2 separate regions of the Homo sapiens genome follow, and region 1 is linked to region 2. The links come from fine-mapping of genetic effects on plasma protein levels. A gene starts in region 2. The other region holds a variant in brackets. All regions are shown on one strand. Distances are from middle to middle.

Evidence for each region. PIP is the chance, under the fine-mapping model, that this variant and not a neighbour inherited with it causes the effect. Protein levels are from antibody-based Olink assays in UK Biobank. Linkage for the fine-mapping came from a reference panel and not from the study's own genotypes, which makes the PIPs less certain.
Region 1: its variant is fine-mapped to the plasma level of the NID2 protein (UK Biobank, PIP above 0.99). The variant lies in the coding sequence of NID2. If it changes the protein, the assay may bind it differently, which can mimic a change of level.

The regions. Positions count from the first base shown.
Region 1 is chr14:52,031,726-52,041,499 of GRCh38, reverse strand. It overlaps NID2 (nidogen 2), which reads left to right. Exons shown (of 22, transcript NM_007361.4): 8 at 649-849; 9 at 2,523-2,753. Among named protein-coding and RNA genes, the nearest start is that of NID2, 32 kb to the left of the region's middle. The variant G/T (reference allele first, on the strand shown) is at 727.
Region 2 is chr14:52,064,593-52,075,234 of GRCh38, reverse strand. NID2 (nidogen 2) reads left to right here and starts at 6,176. Exons shown (of 22, transcript NM_007361.4): 1 at 6,176-6,468; 2 at 7,072-7,377. The coding sequence starts at 6,241. LOC105378180 (a long non-coding RNA gene) reads right to left here and starts at 5,999. Exons shown (of 2, transcript XR_943864.4): 1 at 3,728-5,999; 2 at 1,088-3,006.

The DNA.
Region 1 (9,774 bases), 33 kb after region 2:
GATTCTCACCTTCCAACCTGAAAACTTGTTTGCTAGAGGTTTTATCTTTATTGCATTAAAAATAGTTTTGTGAGAAGTTCTTTCTCCATCTTTAACTGCAGAGCTCGGTAGCTGTTAATAGGTTCTTGCTTTAATCAAAATTTGAATAAAGCCCTTGGGTCAAAAGTAGATAAAAAATGGCACACCTGGATAAATTTGTATTTCAGATAAACAATTTTCTAGTATAAGTATTACCCACATATTTCATGAGACATACTTATCTGAAATTCAAACAAAACCCTGAATGTCTTAGGTGGTAGTTTATTTGTTTTTGTTTTTTTGTTGTTAGGTTTATTTGTTTGTTTGTTTTTTGCTAAGTCTAGCAACCTTAGAGAAAAGTCAAGGACGTTCCCAAGAGTATTTCTCACAGAATACAAGCTTGTTCAAAGAGAAGCTGGGTGAGGTAAGGCAGGATGAAACCATATTCTTCAATGGAAAAGTTTGGGAACTTATGGAATCAACAGCTGATAGTGCTTACTCTCAGATATCAGATAATCTCCTTAGGCACGATCTCCAACAGCAGTAGAAATTGGGAGCGGGCAGTATATACTGGTAACTGTTTAAGCAAGACCTCTTTTCATCCCTGTGCTGAATGTTTTTCATCTCCAGGTGCTGCCTTTACCCATGACATGGAAGTTACATTCTACCCGGGAGAGGAGACGGTTCGTATCACTCAAACTGCTGAGG[G/T]ACTTGACCCAGAGAACTACCTGAGCATTAAGACCAACATTCAAGGCCAGGTGCCTTACGTCTCAGCAAATTTCACAGCCCACATCTCTCCCTACAAGGAGCTGTACCACTACTCCGACTCCAGTATGTATAACCAGTCTTCACATCTGTAAAATGGGGATTATGCCCATCTCACAAGATAGATACAAGGCTTAAATGACTTACATGGCATGTCCTTAGAACAGTGCATGGAACATAAAATGAGCTCTATTATGTTATTACTCTTATTGTTACCATGAAATATATCGTGTAAGTGAGCAGAATGGCTGCTATACATAAGAATATCTATATCCCTACATAGTATTTTCAAATAATAAAATCAATAGCAACATTGTCCATGGGGTGGGTAGGGATGGTATAATTATATACAGTTTTTAACCATCCTACTTTCTGCAACATGGAAAAATAGTGATTATTGGAATTTATATTTATCTCAACCTTGTTTCAGCTGATGAGTTCAGGCTGCTTTAAAAAAAAAAAAAATCACAGAAAGAGGCCAGGTGCAATGGCTCATGCCTGTAATCCCACCACTTTGGGAGGCCAAGGTGGGTGGATCACCTGAGGTCAGGAGTTCAAGACCAGCCTGGCCAACATGGTGAAAACCTGTTTCTACTAAAAATACAAAAATTAGCAGGGTGTGGTGGCACGCTCCTGCGATCCCAGCTACTTGGGAGGCTGAGGCAGGAGAATCATCTGAACCTGGGAAGTGGAGGTTGCAGTGAGCCGAGATTGTGCCATTGTACTCCAGCCTGGGCGACAAAGCAAGACTCCATCTCAAAAACAAAACCAAAAAACACAGAGATGCTATAATTTATTATAAAACTAATGCTAGATTTGGAGTCAAAAGATAAGAATTTATATCCTGGACTTGCCATTTAATATCTATAGGGAAAGGCCTCTTAATATCTGAGAATGTATTTTCTCATCTTTCACATGGAACTAAAAATGCTTTTTCTATATTATGTGATCAATGTGTGCGAAGCGTGATGTGTTCTGTGAAAGTACTACCTGCGCACAGGATGCTGCCTCCATCACAGCTGCTGTTGTGCAGCACAGCAATCCGGATTGAGTTGTGCCTTTCCTCTGACCCCTGCTGCTCCTATGCTGAGAGCTGGCAGCCTGGCAGGAGATGTAGGGAAGACAAGGGGAAGCAGAGACCTGGGCTGTGAACAAAATGGTCAGTGTCCGGATCACTGACCTGAGCTTGACTCCTAGACTCAGATGGTGAGAGACAACCCTTTCCCTTCTCTGGAATCCTTCAGATTTACTGAAGTGCGAGGTGTTGGAAGTCGTCACTTCTGTGAAATGTAGAAGATGGATTGGTTTAAAATTTAGGGTGTAGAGTCAAACCAATGTGAGTTTCAGTTCCAGCTCTACCATGTGGCAGCATTGCATCTTAGGCTACTTAACCTTTGTGAGCCTCTGATCACATGATTTAGTGCCCACCTCACCAGGCTGTTGTGAGGAATAAATGAGGCAGTATGTAGAGAGCACTGTTGGCATGGCTGGCCCTTAGTAACACTTATTCTTTGTGTATAATAACATGGACAATTGTAGTGCCTTCTCCCTCTCAGCACTGTGGCTTTGCATCCACTCAGGTTTTTGGGATTTCCTTACACATTTTTTCATATAAACTCAGGAGGTTCCCAAGGGAACACACTCCAAGAATTAGATGAAAAAAACTGCAGAAAAATCCACCTCACATGAAAATCTCTGTATTTAATATTTTTAAAAAATTACCACTGTGTTTGTTGCAGCTGTGACCTCTACAAGTTCCAGAGACTACTCTCTGACTTTTGGTGCAATCAACCAAACATGGTCCTACCGCATCCACCAGAACATCACTTACCAGGTGTGCAGGCACGCCCCCAGACACCCGTCCTTCCCCACCACCCAGCAGCTGAACGTGGACCGGGTCTTTGCCTTGTATAATGACGAAGAAAGAGTGCTTAGATTTGCTGTGACCAATCAAATTGGCCCGGTCAAAGGTAAGGTTTCCTTTTTTGTTGTTGGGTAAAAATGACATCCTTTTAAGTAGAGTTAGAATGATTCACAGAGGTTACTAAGGGTTACCTAGTGCCATGCTGTGTTATGTGCTAGGTATAAGGATGAATAGAGCAGATCCTTGCCCTTGAGTTGGAAACAGAGGCAGAAAAGAGTTTTAGGGCAGGGAACAGTGTCCCTGCCAAAGTCAGGAAATAGAGCATAGTATGTGAAGCTGGTTTATAGCAATACCCAACTGTGCGTGCCAATCAGGAATATACCTGTGAACAAGGCAGACTGGAATTAGGAGGGAGAGTGATGCTGACAAGTATTTGTTACAAGTGTGATGAGAGCAGGGCACTGTGAGTCTAGTTTGAAGATTCAGAAAAGATGTCCCCAAGAAAGTGACATTTTAGCTAAAACAGATGAGAAGAATTTCATCCAAAACTAAGGTGGAGCAAAGAGCTAGTATCTGGAAAAACCAAACATCATAGAACTTGATGTATAACCTCCCCCTCCATGATTCCCAGAACATTATACTTAATGGTGAAAGACTGGATGCTTTTCCCTGAAGCTTAGGAACAAGACAAGGATGTCTGCTGTTGCCACTTTTATTCAATTCAGTACTAGAATTTCTAGCCAGGGTGATTAGGCAAGAACACAAAATAAAAGCCATCTAAATTGGAAAAGGACAAAGTAAAATTAGTCTCAGATGACATTTTGTGTAGAAAATCTCAGGAATTCACTAAAACACTATTAGAACTAAAGAACAAGTTCGCAATGTTATAAGATATGCAAGATCAGTACACCAAATTGTATTTCTCTATAGTAGCAATGAGCAAACTAAAGATTAAGAAATTGTTTCAAAAAGAGATAAATTTTTAAAAAGAAGTGCAGTACTTGTACATTGCATCCCACAAAACATTTTTGGAAAAAAATTTAAGACCCAGTTAAATGGGAAGATGTTCCACATTCATGGATTGGAAGACTTAATACTGTTAAGATGTGAATACTTCCCAAATTGATCTATTAATTCAACATAATCCCTATCAGAATCTCAGCTGGCTCTTTGAAGAAATTGGCAAGCTGATTCTAGAATTTATATGGAAATTCAAAGAACACAGAATAGCCAAAACAATCTTGGAAAAGAATAAAGTCAGACTTGTATTTCTCAAACTCGAAATCTAGAGTAATCAAGACAGTGTGGTCCTGGCGTAAGGATACATGTAAAGATCAAAGGAACAGAAGTGGGAACCCAGAAATACTCACATTAAAAGTCAATTGCTTTTTCAACAACAGTGCCGGGAGTGGGGAGGGATAGCATTAGGAGATATACCTAATGCTAAATGACGAGTTAATGGGTGCAGCTCACCAACATGGCACATGTACACATATGTAACAAACCTGCACGTTGTAAACATGTACCCTAAAACTTAAAGTATAATAATAATAGAATTCTGATGGTTAAAAGACAAAACAAAACAAAAAACACAGTGCCAAAACAATTCAATGGAGAAAGAATAGTCTTTTAAACTATTGTTAACTATGGTGCTGGGACCACTGAGTGACCACATACAAAAGAATGAAGTTGAACCTTTTACCTCACAGCATATCCAACTCAAAATGGGCCAACAGACCTAAGTGTAAGAGTTAAAACTTTTAGAAGAAAACATATGGGTAAATTTTTGTGACTTTGAATTTGCTAATGGTTTCTTAGGTACGACACTAAAAGCACAAGCAACAGCAAAATAAACTGGGTGTCATCAAAATTTTAACAGTTTGTGCTTCAGAGGACATTATTAACAAAGTGAAAACACAGCCATAGAATGGGAGACAGTATTTTAAATCATGTGATATTTGTTCTAGAGTATACGAAGTATCTTACAACTCAATAAAAAAACAAGCTAACTAAAAGATGGGCAAAAGCTCTGCAAGGACCTCTCTCCAAAAAGATATACAGATACCCAATGGGCATGTGTAAAGATGCTCAGCATCATTAGTCATCAGGGAAATGCAAATCAAAACCACAATGAGATACTACTTTACATCATGTGGTCGAGTATAATCAAAAAACGGGTAATAACAAGTGTTGGCGAGAACATGGAAAATTCGGAACCCTCATACGTTGCTGGTGTGATTATAAAATGATGTGGCTACTGTGAAAAACAAAATAGTGGTTTCTCAAAGTGAAACACAAAGTTACCATTTAATGGAGCAATTCTACTCCTTTCTATATACCCAAAAGAAATGAAAACATAGATCCCCACAAAAACTTATTCGTGTATATTCATAGTGGCAGTATTCATAATAGCCAAAAGGTGGAAGCAACATACATGCCCATCAGTTGATGGACACCAAAAAATATATTCATATACTGGAATATTATTCAACCATAAAAAGGAATGAAGTACGGATACATGCTGCAACATGGATGAACTCTGAAAACCTTAAGTGAAGGTAGTCAGTGACAAAGGACAGCATACTGAATGGTTACAATTATGTGAAATATCCAAAATAGGCAAATCCACATACATAGAAAGCATATTCATGGTTGCCCAGGGCTAAGAGATAATGAGAGCATAGGGCGTTAATAGCTAAAGGGTACAGGGTTAATTTTGGGGGTGATGAAAATGTTCTGAAATTGATTGTGGTGACGGTTGGATAACACTGAATAGACGAAATTGTTTAATTATGTACTTTAAACGGATGAATTGTATGGTATGTGAATTACTTCTCAACTGAAGGCCAGGCATACTGGCTTATGCCTGTAATCCCAGCACTTTGGGAGGCTGAGGTGGGTGGATCACCTGAGGTCAGGAGTTCAAGACCAGCCTGGCCAACATGGTGAAACCCTGTCTCTACAAAATAAAACATATATATATATATATATATATACACAAAAAAATTTAGCCAGGTGTGGTGGCATGTGTCTGTAGTCCCAGCTACTCAGGAGGCTGAAACAGGAGAACTGATTGAACCCAGGAGGCGGAGGTTGCAGTGAGCCAAGATTGTGCCATCGCATTCCAGCCTGTGCAACAGAGTGAGACTCCGTCTCAAAAAATAAAAATAAATGGAAGCAAATAGTAGTAGAAACAAAACTCTAAAACCATTCTCATCGGGTACAGTGGCTTACACCTGTAATCCCAGCTACTCTGGAGGCTGAGGTGGGAGGATCACCTGAGCCCAGGAGTTTGAGGCCAGAGTTGGCCACATAACAAGACCCCGTCTCAAAGTAAGCAGTGGTTCTCAAATTTTAATGACCATTAGCCTCACCTGTGAAGACTGATTTTAAAATGTTCTAGGCATATCATGTCACAGAAAGACATGCAGGAAACTTAAAAGCATGTTGCTCTGTGAAAGCAGCTAGTCTGAAAAGGCTACATACAGAATCATTCTAACCATGACATTCTGGAAAAGGTTACACTATAGAGACAGTAAAAAGATCAGTGGTTGCCAGTGGTTCAGGAGGAAGAAGGAGAAGGATGCATAGGTGGAACATGGGATTTTTAGGGCAGTGAAACTATTCTGTATGATATTGTAATGTTGGTTATAGGCCATTATGCGTTTGTCAGTCTATAGAACTGTCCAACACCAAGAGTGAGCCCTACTGCAGACTATGGGCATTAGTTAATAATGTGTCAGTATTGATTGGGGATAACAAATGCACCACACTAATGCACAATGTTGATAATAGGGGAAACTGCACATTTTGGGTGGGGGGATATGGGAGCTCGTACTTTCTGCTCCATTTTTCTCTAAATGTAAAACCATCCTAAAAAGCAAGGTCTTAATTATTAAAAAATGTTTCAAGCAAGCCAGAGGATGAGCTTGTGAAGTCAGGGAACTCTACAGATGGGAAGTGGCTTTGTCAGATCAAGGGGACATTTTAATTCTGAAAACCAGGTCATGTTTTCCCCTAGAATGTAAGAGCCACACCAGGAGAAAAAAACCATCTTCCTCAATTCAGCCACTGTATTGAAACTGTTGAGCCCAGAGTTAGCTCCTCAGTGAGGTGAATCTGTAAGTGATACGCGGTTCTGTGCTTTGTTATTGGAGCTGAGGGCTCCTTAAGCCTCAGCAGGCTCAATAAAGAAGTGTTGCTTCAGCAATATGACAAGATTAAGGTACAAGGACTAGACTCTTTTCTAGGATGCGAAAGTGACTTGTAATGAGAATCCCGAGGTGCTTTGGTTTTAAGAAACTTGGTTGGGAATGTAGGCATTAGGTGCCCAGATATTGGATTGTAAGGTAGCAAATGAACACATGAAAATGTGAGTTGATTTTAGAGGAACATGTAAATTAGAAAGGGAAAGATTGCTGTAGTAGATTTCTCAAAGAGAGATTTAAACCTACTGGGGAGAATGGTCTTTACCTTTAAATGTCCAGGTCAGCCCTGTGTTGGGTGTAGGCATCTGATCTGTAAAAGCAACTGTTAGTGAAATTTCCCAGGCTATGGAGTCCCATTCAGATTCTGGAACCATTTAGGAAAAAGATGTGTCTCTGGGTATATTTTTCCTAGAGACATACCAAATGAGAGTAAGAAAGGATCAGAGAAAGCAAACTGGCAGGTACCAAGTTGCTTGTTTTCTTTAGAATTTTATGATTTTCCCTCCCACCCCAGTCAAATAATAATATCAAAGGATGGTTTACTTGGTGCCAAGTACTGTTCTAAGCACCTTACATGAATTAACTCATTTAATCCCCACAATGACCTCTACCCAATGGTGGGGTGGGGGTGGGGTTATTTGTTATCCCATTTTACAGATGATGAGACTGAGGTATAGAAATGAAGTAATTTGCCTGGTCATAGTAAGTGACCTGGGTGAGCTGGGACTCAAACTCAGGCACTGGCTCCAGTACGCACACCCTTACCCCTCATGGCTCTGCTGTTCCACAGTGGCCTCATGACTGCCTCATAATTTAGACCAAACTTTGAAAGAGGCAATGTGTGTCTTTTAAACCCTTTGTGTTTGAACCCTACTTCATCCACACACAGCAGTACTGTTCATTCTACCTGAATAGGAGGGAAAAAAAGAAAAACAAAAAAGAAACACCCAAAAGTTTTTTCTTTCCCCTCTTGGTACACAGCAGTATCTTCCTAAGAACTGCTCAGTTTTTCCAGAGGGAACGATAGTTGTTGGAATTCATGTGAAACAGCGCAGCTGTCCACACCTGATGTGGGTGTGGTGCGACTTCCCAGGGCGAGGATGCAGAACTGGGGTGTCTTTCCCAGTGAGTAATTGGAGCCTCTGTCCCTCGGTGACTTCTCAACCAGCAGTGCCACCCCCCACCAGTTGTTTGAGCTTTAAGCTTTAAGTGTGAGTCAGCTGTTTTTTGTTGTTGTTGGTTGGTTGGTTGTTTTGTGGGGTCATAAAACACGATCCAAAAATGCTTCCTGTCCTTCCACTTCACGGGTCCTTTTGGCGAGTTGAGGAGGCTCTGGGCAGAGGGCTGTGCAGTGAAGCTGAAGGGACTGTTCCTTTAAGGAAAACCGCTCTTCCCCTTGATTAAATGAGTAAATTAGTTCCAGATCCTCTGTTAAGAGAGTCAGGCAGTTTAAGAGGGTGAGGGCGAAATAGAAAATGTCTTAAGAAGGATACTGTGTTCTTTACTTACTATAATAGGAGAAAAGCTTACAAGTCATAGAGAATGAGTCGTGAAATGGTTTTAGAAATGTATTTTAAAAATGTTTTGGGAAGCCAAGTTCAGTGAATGGGGCCCTGTGCTCAGAAGAGCCCCATGCTTGGTTTAACGCTTTGCTTTGAACCATGGGCTCCACATTTTCATTTTGCACTGGGGATTGCAAATTATGGAACTAATCCTGTCAGTGACATACATTTTAAATCAGTATTGAGTAATTAGGGACACTTTCTTCTCAATTTTAGGTAGGATAATATATCCTGTCCAAGTTTGCAAGTCAACTTTTGAGCTGAGATTTTTTTTTTTTCTTTTAATGCCTAGCAGGGTGGTAAGCTCTTGATGTCCATGTGAACACACTAATCTTTGCTGGAATGTGCCATGGTGAAATTTTGATGCTGGAAAGTACTGAATAAGAAGGCTAAGCATTAGTATTTATAAATCAAAACATGTTGACAATTACTTCCTGCTTTGGTGGGGTATGCCAGGCATTTTGTACAGAATCTTCCTAAAATGGAGAAATGATGGGAGATGATCACGTTCTTGTCTTACATTGGGTCCTAATGGATGAAGACATGACCTTGTCCTTAGTTATAACCTATTGAGGACTGACTCAGGAACCTGGTCTAGGCTCAAGTTAACTCGGCAACCACAACCCCAGTGCGGTGCCTCTTTCCTGTCAGCCAAGAGATCCAGAGGAACGGACCTCCAAGGATGTCTGCATGCTTCAGGGAGCTAGGCTTATGCTGACATAGTTCATCAGGTTTAAAAAGTGCTGGAATTATTTATTGGTCCTTTGTTTTGGCAAAGATTCTGTTACTCCAGCCGACAACATTGTGGTGAACTGAGGATAAACCCATAGCCCTCCTTATTTTCAGCCAATAATACGGGAATCAATAATACGGGAATATTCCACTACAAGAATGCACTGTGGTGTTTCTTATAAAGTGGGATGGAAAGAGTTTACCAGAAAACAAGGCTGTCTCAGCCAAGGCATCCCAGCTCACAGCAGGCTATGACAGGGCACTGGAAGAGCCATAACGTGGGCAGTAGGGCAGGCACGGGGGAGAATGCCAGACACCCTGAAGGACTTGGGAGCGAGTCCAGTCTATGAGGTCAGCTGCAGCAGTCAGCACTTGGGATCTAGATTAGGAGTCACTCTGGGCAAGTCTCCCCCCATAGCAGTGGGGTTGTGGTTGCCAAGTTAACTTGAGAGTATAGACCAGGTTCCTGAGTCAGCATCTGTTACAATGGAGAACAACAGGGTCATGTCCTCATTGAAGGCTCAGTATAAGACAAGAACCTGATTCTCTCCTGTTGTTATTTCTCCATTTTAATAGAAGATTCTGTACAAAGTGGGGTGGGAGACACGGGTCAGAAAGAGTGAAA
Region 2 (10,642 bases):
GAGGAGTGGGTGCTGCTGCATGCAACAGTGGACTCAGCTTATAGGGATCTGTTTGCTCACATGCCAAGGAATATGGTGAAGGCAGGTACTGACTGGCTTAGATACTCAGCTCCCCTCTGTGTTTTTGCTTGGCCATGCTTTTGTCCTCATTGTTGTACCTCACAGTGAGAAGATGGCTGGCCAAGCTCAAAACATCACCTCCATGTTTAAGGTAGCAAGAATGGGGAAAGATACAACTATTCCCTTAAATCACCAACACAAAACCTTTCCAGAAACCCCCAGACTTTCATGAGATGTCTGGAAGTTAGAACAGGACTATACCAAATGGCCACCTTTGGCTGCAAGAGAGACTGAGAAAGTAATAATCTTACTTCTATAGTGATGGGGGCCAGGGAGAAGGAGGTTGGAAATAAGGGTTGAAGAAATGAACCTATCATTTCTGCCACAAAAGCTAGCAGGTGACAGTTGGTGAGGACCTGAGATAGGCCAATGGTAATCGAGAAAGGGCAAATATTGTTGCCATGGACTAAAATGGAAAACTCAGAAATACTGAGTATTGAATCTAGTTATGCTAGATGAAGACTTAGGTATTGTCTCGGGGAGATGTTCAGCAGGGAGCTGGATGTTAGTTCTAAACTTAAGTGAAGGCTCAGGCCTGGGGATATATTTGAGAGTCATTAGAATATAGGTGGGAAGCTGGGCCATCAGAGGAGTCAAGACACTCCAGGACAGCATGACATGAGAAGAGCAGTAGGCCATGGTCATGCCATACATTTAGACATCGGAAGCAGAGCATGAGAAATTCACAGGAGATACTACAACAAAATGGCTGGAAAAGTCAAGGGAGTAGAGAATTTCTAGAAATGAGTGGTCAGTAGGATCAGAAACAAAAAGGCCCAGTAAGATAAAAACAAAAACTACCTATAGGGTTTGGTAATATGATTTTGCTGTTGGTCTTTCCCTGAGCAGTTCAGTGATGGGGTTGGGAAGATTATTTTTGCAGTGGAAAGAAGGAGGCAGGAAGTATAAATTCCTTTCCAGTAGAGTTTTTGAAAGTAAGAGAAATAAAACTAAGGCAACAAATAAGTAGGGAAATTTGTTTTTTATTTTTATGGGTAAGACTGGGCAGAGGGGATTTAGAGGCAGAGGGGAAGAGGCCAACAGGGAGGGAAGGGTTGAAGTTACAGGAGACTGTATCACTATAAGGGTGAAAGGCTTAATCATGATTGGCTTCCACCAATCTTAGGGCATCTGCCAGGGCTGAGGAAGCAACCCATCATTCCCGGGCTTATTGCACCCTTTACCTGAACAATATGGGGTTTCTAAAACCAAAAAAAAAAAAAAAAAAAAAAAAAAAAGAGGGGATGGCTGTTGGGAGAGGTTCCAATAGTGTCTGCCACACCAACCCTCTCTCTACTTAAAAATGTCACAGCAGAATTGCATCTGCAGTGATTCATATCAAAAGCTTGAACAGTCTTTTCATATTGCACATTTTAATTTAAATACTTTCTCACTTCATGGTTCTCCTTAGGCCTAACCTACTTTCAATTAAGCCTGAGTCTGTGAAGACATACTAACTTGTTCGAGTCTATTTTCTCTACATGCTAGCACACACACCCTGGAATTTAATGGATAGTAAAATTATGCAAAGAATCACTGTGTGCAACAAGAACTGGGACATTTCCTGCCAAGCCCACCTCCAATACAAACATGTACACACACCCATCGGTGCTATACATAGAACTTGCTCTTAAATACCAACATCCATTTGCCACACTGTGGAGCAAATATGCTTCCATTCTCATGATTAAAATAACAGGAAGTATCATCATTCTTGAAGTCTTGGTATTTATAACAACAATATAACCACAAAAAATATGTAACTGTGGAGACTCTTGATAAGGTCTATTGGCAAGGCATCTGGTAGCATCCTTGGCTTGATGAAAAGCCCTGTATCTAAATAATCTTACTTTTCAAGCAATGCTGTGATGTACCCTGAGGATCCAATCCAAGAAGGGTAAAAACTGCTACAGACGTCCTCTATAACCCCCAGCCTGAAAGGGGCCTTTGCCTCTTCAGCCAGTCTGGCAGGTCATGGAAATTCTACTCTTGCAAAGAGAGCTGTGGATACAAGCAAAGTATTTCTTCAGTATTTACTTTGACTGGTGAAAGAGCCACGGCAGATTTTTTTCTTTTTCCCCAAGACACAAAATGACATTTTAAAGAAGAAACCACTCTTGGTGCCATAGCGTCTTTTAAAAATAATATCAGAATAAAAGCTCAAAGGCATGTTCTCTTAAGCACAGCTGTCCAAAGCCTCCTATTTCAGGGAGAATTCAGCCACTTTATGCAGACAGGAAAACAAAACTGTTCGTTTTAGCATCTTCTCTATTGGAACTATTTTTTTGTACTCAGATTGCATCAGATTCAAAACTAGTGACATCCTCTTATGCTCTGTTTCCCCAACCAGATCATGAGCTCTTTAAGGTCAGGGGCCACATTTTGTACTCCTTTATTTCTTGCAGAGTTGTGTTTGTCATGGTGTACTTTCAGGAAATTGTTGTTGAATGGATGAATGAATGAAAGAATGACAAAAATGGGAGAGCAGTGGTAGGTGAGTTGCTAGGCAGCCTGGTAAAGAGGATTACAAGAGTCAGGTCAGATTAGCAGGAAAGGTGGTGTAGGGGAAAGAATGTTGCATTCTGAGCCAGCAGACATGGGTCCTAGTCCCAGGCTGGCTTGCTTGTCTTCACTCATTCAACAAACATTTCTTACACTTCAAGTGAGCCAGGCAGGCATTGCGGCAGACACTGAAGAAGGCAAAATCCCTGCCCTCCAGGTGTGGTGGTGGTGGTGGTGGTGGTGGTGGTAAGGGAAGCATGTGGAGATCAGGATTATGGGAGAGATGTGTGATAGGAGGTATGATCACGGCAAGCACAGGGCACATGGAAGCAAGGAGAAAGGGCTTCTAAATCAGACTGTGGATTCCAGGAAAGCTTCGTCCACCTGAAAGGAAAAGACAGAGGCACAAAATATAACAAAACATTTACTTGAGCCAAAGTGAGGACAGTTGCCCGGAAGACTTAGACCCAAGTAACCCTGGATATGAGCTTCATGCCGCCTTTATTACAAGCAGGTTTTTTACAGGCAGAAAAGGGGGACAGGGAGTAGGCCGATATGAAATTGTTTGTAAGGAATTCACATTGGTTTACAGAAACAACATTGCTCACTGATTGGCTATGCACTGTTAAGCTATAGGCTATGAGTGATAGTGTCCAGTGTGACATTATTAGGTTAATGTATAGTTACTTGTGGCAATAGCAAGCAGTTTCAAGGATGAATACATAGCTCAAAAGGGGGCAGTAGTGTTACTGGAAAGAGTTCCTGATCCAGACCCTAAGAGAGGGCTCCTGGATCTGGTGCAAGAAAGAATTTGGAGTGAGTCTACAAAGTAAAGTGAAAGTGACTTTATTAGATAAGTAAAGAAACAAAAGAATAGGCAGAGCAGTGGCGTCGGCTGCTTGACTGATTATACTTATGGTTATTTATTGATTATAAGCTAAATGGGGTGGATTATTAATGAGATTTTTGCAAAAGATGTGGGGAATTCTTTTCTCTTCCCAGATTCCTGAAGGAGGAGGGTTTTGATTCAAGCCTTAAAGATGAGAAGGTGTTGGCTTGAAATTGACCAAGAAATTGACCTTTTACTGTAGGTAAAAGGACTTACCTGTGAGGATGTTGTATTGGAGAATTAAAGTCTCAGCTTCAGGTGAGACTTCAGGGTGGCTGTGACGGGAGATAAAGTTAGAGACATAAACTAGAGCTACTTTCCAAAGGGCCTTGCTGCAATATAATTTAGTGGTTAGGAGTGGAGGTTTAGAGATCAGACAGAATTGGGTTCAAATCTCAGCTTTGGTACTTACCAGCCATGTGATAATAACTGATTTTTTTAAAATCCCATCTGAGCTTTAGTTTCCTTAACACAACGACTACCTGTTATCAGTTGTCTATTGCTGCATAACAAATTATCCCAAAATGTAATAGCTTAAAGCAACACACAGCTTCTTCAGCTTCTGAAGCTGAAGCTGTAATTCTCAGTTTTGGTTGGTCTGGAATCCCACCAAAACTATAATTATAATCTAACCAAAACTATAATTCTCAGTTTTGGTGGGTCTGGAATCTGCACCTGGCTTAGCTGGGTCCTCTGCTTCAGGGTCTCTTGCAAGGCTGCAATCAAATGTCAGCCAGCGCTGAGATACCATCTCAAGACCCAACTGGGGAAGGATCCGTTTCCAAGCTCACTGACATGGTTGTTGGCAGAATTCAGTTCCTTGCTGACTGTTGGCCAGAGGCTGCCCTCCTCAGTTCCTTGCTATGTGGGCCTCCCCGACATAACAGCTTGCTTCATCAAAATCAATGAGAGGGAAAGTCAACTAACAAGGAAGAAGCCACAATCTTATTTAGCCTTCTTCTCATCACTCTTGCCACACTATGTTTGTTAGAAATCACAAGGCCAGTCCACACTCCCAGGGCAGAGATTATACAGGGGAATGAACACCAGGAAATGGGGATCATTGGAGACCATCTCAGTGTTTGCTTGCCCCAAAGCTCATAGCTTAGTACCACTAAATAAATGTTAGTTATTATTATTATGCTGAATCGAGAGATAAAGTAAAACTACAGAGGGCCAGTAGTTTTATATCAGGGAGTAACTTCAGATGATGTTGGGCAAGTCAAGTCATCTGTCTTTGAACTTTCATTTCATCCTCAGTAAAATAAAAATACCTGACCCCAGAAAGAATGAGAAAATATATGTGCAAGCATAAATATATTTTTGGAACATCAAATATACAACTCTCCACTCTGAGGAAGCAAACTGCTTTGGGCCAGTTTTCCATTTTGTGTCTGCTCTATGAGTCTCACAGTCTGATGTCTTCACGTTTTTTAGCGTTTGGTCCAGTGGGCCCATAGGAATAAACACCTACAAAGAGCAGTGTGTCTCTGGAGAGTCCTTTAAGGCATTTCCAAGGATTTGCTTTTTGGTTTTTTTCTTTCTTTCGTTCTTTTTAAATATCTTTGCTTTTAAGGACCTCATGGGGGGCCTGGGAGAGAAAACAGACTGTCTGGGAAATTTTAAGCTCTTGATAATAAAAATGGTAATAAAATCTCCTCCAGCTCCTGAGGCTTCGCAGAGGGGATGTTTATGGTGGATGGGGTTCCCCTTCTCCTGCGCAGCTGGTTTCGAGGTTGTGCGGTTTCCAGTCCTGCGGAGCAGCTCAGGTTACCGCCTCCGTGGCCGCGGGGGAGGGCATCTCCGACGGCCGCAGCAATGGGCAAGAGATCAGGGTCTTCCCATCCCCGCGACTCGCCCCTTTCTGCCTGGTAACCAAGCGGGATGCCTCATCCTACTCCCCAAACGGAGCGGATCACACACAGTAGTATTTCATGGTCTTTCCTGCTGCGGTTTTCCCGGGGGAAGGTACTTCCAGAGGGTGGCCAAGTCTTCCCTAGCGGCCGGCCTTCGGGAGGGGGACAGAACTTAGGAGTCAGCCCTCTGCCTTCGTACAAAGGCTCGCTTCTCCTCAGGGCGTCTCTGGGTGGAGCGAAGCGGCCGAGGGGACCACGACAATGTCCCTTTGCTTTTCGGACCGATGGCCAGGCCTCCAGAGCCAGGAGCGCCCGGGACCCCAGGGCAGGGAGCAAAGCTCATACCGCAACCCCGCCACCCGCCCGCGCCCTGCCAGCCTGTTGGGGCCACAGCGCGCAGGCCAGCAGCCGCACTCGCCGCTGCGGGGTTCCCTTTGCGCTGAGCTCATCTCCTGCAACGCCGCTGCCCCAAACCTTGCGGGCCATTTGGTCCCGGGGGTGGGGCTCCTTGGGGGCCGCGGGGCAGCCCGGATGAGAGGATGACCCGGGAGCTCCCTGGGGGCGGAGTGGAAGGGGCAGCTCCAGGCAGCCCTGGCCAGGAGCTTTTACCCCGCCAGCCCCGCTGCTCCAGCGGCCGCTGCCTTAGAAAAGTTAACGAGAACCAGATGTGGTGGCCACTGCCGAACTTTCTCAGAGCCGGTGATTGGTCCCCAGCCGAGGGCCTCAGCCAATTAGCTTGCTGGGTGGGCCTGGAGTCCCGCCCCGCCCAGGCGCCCGCGGAGATCCAGGTTCGAGGCTGGCGCGGCGCGGAGAGTGGGCTGGAGGCCGGGGCGGGACGCGTTGTGCAGCGGGTAAGCGCACGGCCGAGCGAGCATGGAGGGGGACCGGGTGGCCGGGCGGCCGGTGCTGTCGTCGTTACCAGTGCTACTGCTGCTGCCGTTGCTAATGTTGCGGGCCGCGGCGCTGCACCCAGACGAGCTCTTCCCACACGGGGAGTCGTGGGGGGACCAGCTCCTGCAGGAAGGCGACGACGAAAGCTCAGCCGTGGTGAAGCTGGCGAATCCCCTGCACTTCTACGAAGCCCGATTCAGCAACCTCTACGTAAGTTCAGCCCCCTCCTGGCACTTTTCCCGCAGCTTCTTCCCTGGGGTCGGTCTCACGGAAACCCTGCCTCCAGAGGGGAGGAAACAGACCCCACTCCTGGAGCCCCCCAGCACCCTTGCGGTGGTACCCGGCCAGAGAGCGATGCCGCTGCCTGCCCCGCTGCTGTAGGGGAGCAAGAATGACCTGGAGGGGAGAGCAAGAATTGTTCGCAGCCACGTACGCGTCCCAGGCAGAAAAGGTGGCGTTGCTAGGGCGGCCAGCGGGCTTTGCAGTTAGGACCGCGAGAAGGCTGTGCCCGTCTGCGGAGCTGGGGTGTTCCCTCTTCAGACCTGGAGGCTTCCTCTCCGAGGACATGGGGCTCCGGGGTTGTGAGGGGAGTGAGAAGATAGGTGAACGAGTTTTAGGGCCCCTGGACCTACTGCAGCGCGGAGCTGGGACAGTCGCAAAAGTTGCGCTTGTTTCCCTGAATCCAGACTCCCTGGCCAGTGGGGAAGGAGAGAGAGGCTTTTTGCCTAAGTCAGTTCCCTTCCCTCCCTGCGCGAAAGGGTAGCGTCCTTGGGCTTGAGCGACTGTCACCTTTTTGTCCCTCTCCTCTCCCAGGTGGGCACCAACGGCATCATCTCCACTCAGGACTTCCCCAGGGAAACGCAGTATGTGGACTATGATTTCCCCACCGACTTCCCGGCCATCGCCCCTTTTCTGGCGGACATCGACACGAGCCACGGCAGAGGCCGAGTCCTGTACCGAGAGGACACCTCCCCCGCAGTGCTGGGCCTGGCCGCCCGCTATGTGCGCGCTGGCTTCCCGCGCTCTGCGCGCTTTACCCCCACCCACGCCTTCCTGGCCACCTGGGAGCAGGTAGGCGCTTACGAGGAGGTCAAGCGCGGGGCGCTGCCCTCGGGAGAGGTAAGTGACCAGGGATATTTGACTGCTGAGGAAATTGAAGGATGGGCTTAAATTCTGGGGCAGCGACCCAGGGACTGGCTCGGAGTTGTTTCTGAGCCTACTCTTGCGCTGAACCTGACCTTGGAGGCAGCAGGGCTGGAGTGGCTTGGGAGTGAGGAAAGACGTTGTCTCTAGGCATCTTCTGAGGCCCTGGCAGGTGGTCACTCCCTTGAGGAAAAAAATGCTTAGCGGATATGAGAGCGGGAGTGCAGATGTGGGAGCCCCTTTGAACATAAGGCAATTTACTGTTTGGTTGCTTATTTTTAGAACCATCTCTAAGTATACAAGTATTTCTAATTATATGTTCATTGAAGGGGAAAAAATCAGAAAATACAGATAATTTTAAAAAAGAAAACAACCACTCATTTTCCCACCACTGATAAACATTTTTCTGCGTACATTTTCAGAGTTTTTTCTTCTGCATATCTTTATTGCTGTCTATTAACAATGATGAGTTTACACTGCACATACTGTTTTATAACTTGCTTTTTTCACAGAATAGTGTATTGTAAATATGTTTCAATGTCAATAAATGTATTTCTACATCATTTATAATGATGCATACTACTGTATCCTGCTATTATCCTGTATAATAGTGGGTGTACCACAGTATGCTCAACCAGTGTTGGGCCATTAAGGCTTTTTCTGGTTTTTCATTATTATAAATAATAGCGTGAATCACTTTTTAAAAAGCTAAATCTTTGCACATGTTCTTAGTTGACATTCCAGGAAGTGCAATTGGTAGGTCAGAGAGGATGCACTTTTGATAAAGTTCTTGATAACTTCTGCCTAATTGCCTTCCAGGTACCAGTTTACAAGTTTCTTAGTTTATAGGAGTCTGCCGTCAATGTGCTTTACAGTCTCTACCTGCGGAAAGTAAAAAATTCCAGGCTCCTGGTCTTTAGTCTTGTCATCAACATTTGAAGTCCTCCAAATGGATATGAGTGGGGCCAGCGTGCTTGGTAAATGGCAAACTGCCTCATTCCTGAAGAAAGTAAGGGCTTCCTTCTATGGAATTAGACCTGAATCTAAAATACCATACTCTAGGGGCTGAAACCATATGATTCATCTCAATTTTAACTTACGGAAATGCTTCTTCACTATAGAAGGATGGTACATGCCCCCTGTAAGAGGTGAGGTTGCTTGCCCATGTCACTGATCTCTATCTTGTAAGGATGCTGTGACTTATATCTTTTGTATGGGGACTCTTTATTTTTTAATTTTTGAGGGTACATAGTAGGTGTATATATTTATGGGGTACATGGGATGTTTTGGTACAGGCATGCAATACGTAATAATCACATCTTGGAGAATGGGGTATCCATCCCCCCAAGCATTTATCCTTTGTATTACACACAATCTAATTACACTCTTAGTTATTTAAAAATGTACAATTAAGTTATTATTGACTATAATAACCTGTTATCACAGGTTATAGTCACCCTGTTGTGCTATCAAATGGTAGGTCTTATTCATTCCTTCTATTTTTTTTTTTTTGGTACCCGTTAACTGTGTCCACCTTCCCCTGACCCCTACTACCCTTCCCAGCCTCTGGTAACCATCCTGTTACTCTCTATGTTGCATAAGGACTCTTTAAATGCAAGGTTTTTGGAATTAAAACTTTTGTCTGGTCCTTTTCTGGGGTGGGGGAGGTTTAGGGTAGAAGAGATTTGTAAATTCCATCTCTCTTTTACTTTTCTAATTAAAATCCACCTGCAGACATTACCATTTGCTAGTTGGCTTCAGAATGTTTCATTAAGAAAACTAGAAATACCATTTGACCCAGCCATCCCATTACTGGGTATATACCCAAAGGACTATAAATCATGCTGCTATAAAGACACATGCACACGTATGTTTATTGCGGCACTATTCACAATAGCAAAGACTTGGAACCAACCCAAATGTCCAACAATGATAGACTGGATTAAGAAAATGTGGCACATATACACCATGGAATACTATGCAGCCTTAAAAAATGATGAGTTCATGTCCTTTGTAGGGACATGGATGAAATTGGAAACCATCATTCTCAGTAAACTATCGCAAGAACAAAAAACCAAACACTGCATATTCTCACTCATAGGTGGGAATTGAACAATGAGATCACATGGACACAGGAAGGGGAATATCACACTCTGGGGACTGTGGTGGGGTTGGGGGAGGGGGGAGGGATAGCATTGGGAGATATACCTAATGCTAGATGACACGTTAGTGGGTGCAGCGCACCAGCATGGCACATGTATACATATGTAACTAACCTGCACAATGTGCACATGTACCCTAAAACTTAGAGTATAATAAAAAATAAATAAATAAATAAATAAATAAATAAAAAAGAAAGGGGAAAAAAAAAAAAAAAGAAAGGAGGATTCTGTTTGGATAGGGGATGTTCTTTCAATTACCCACATTGAAGTTTCTTCCAATATTTTAAAGAGCTCTGGGACTTGAGTTCTTGTTTTAATAGTTCTTTGGAGATAGACTTTGGCAAACAGTAATCTAATTTGCTTGAAGGACTGAGTTCTACATGGCGTTCTTAAAGTTTGGCTTACTAACTTTATATTGCAAAGTTACTGGAAACTGGAAGATTCAAAGCAATGGCATCTTTGCCATTAAAAACAATTGCAGTTGGTGCCCTTTTTCTCCATGGATATTCCTGTCAGGTGTGACCAGATGTTGCACCTGATATTGCAGGAATGTCAAGGTGTAATTGTATCTGAAAAAAAAATGTGAACAAATAGTGTTTGTCAATTCAGTTAATCTGAGATTTCTTGAACTCTCATAGGTAGTTCACAGAGCAAAAAAGTTATGGTGTAGACCTTTGAAATACTTATTGATGGGAGACATAGAGGACTAATGTTTAGCTGTGCTTTTTGTGGGGAAAGAGGAGTGTTTTGTTTTTGTCATTTTAGGGATGGGGTTAGAGACAGCTGAGTTATATAGATCTCTGTAATGTGGGGAATGTTTTGTTTATCTGGAATTTAAGTCAGGTTGAAAGGGCTAAAAAGAATGGATATTGAGAATGAGGTATCAAGAGAGATTGTTCTGAGCAAAAACATGACCCAGGAGAAGGTTGAGAGAGCAACCTATTAGCAAAGGGGCCAGAGAAATGGATGAAGGAGTCACAGGCAGTAACATAAGACAGATGAGTGCAAGGTTGCCCGCTATGGTTGAATATTTGTCCCCTCTGAAAATCATGTTGAAACTTAATCCTCAATGTGACAGT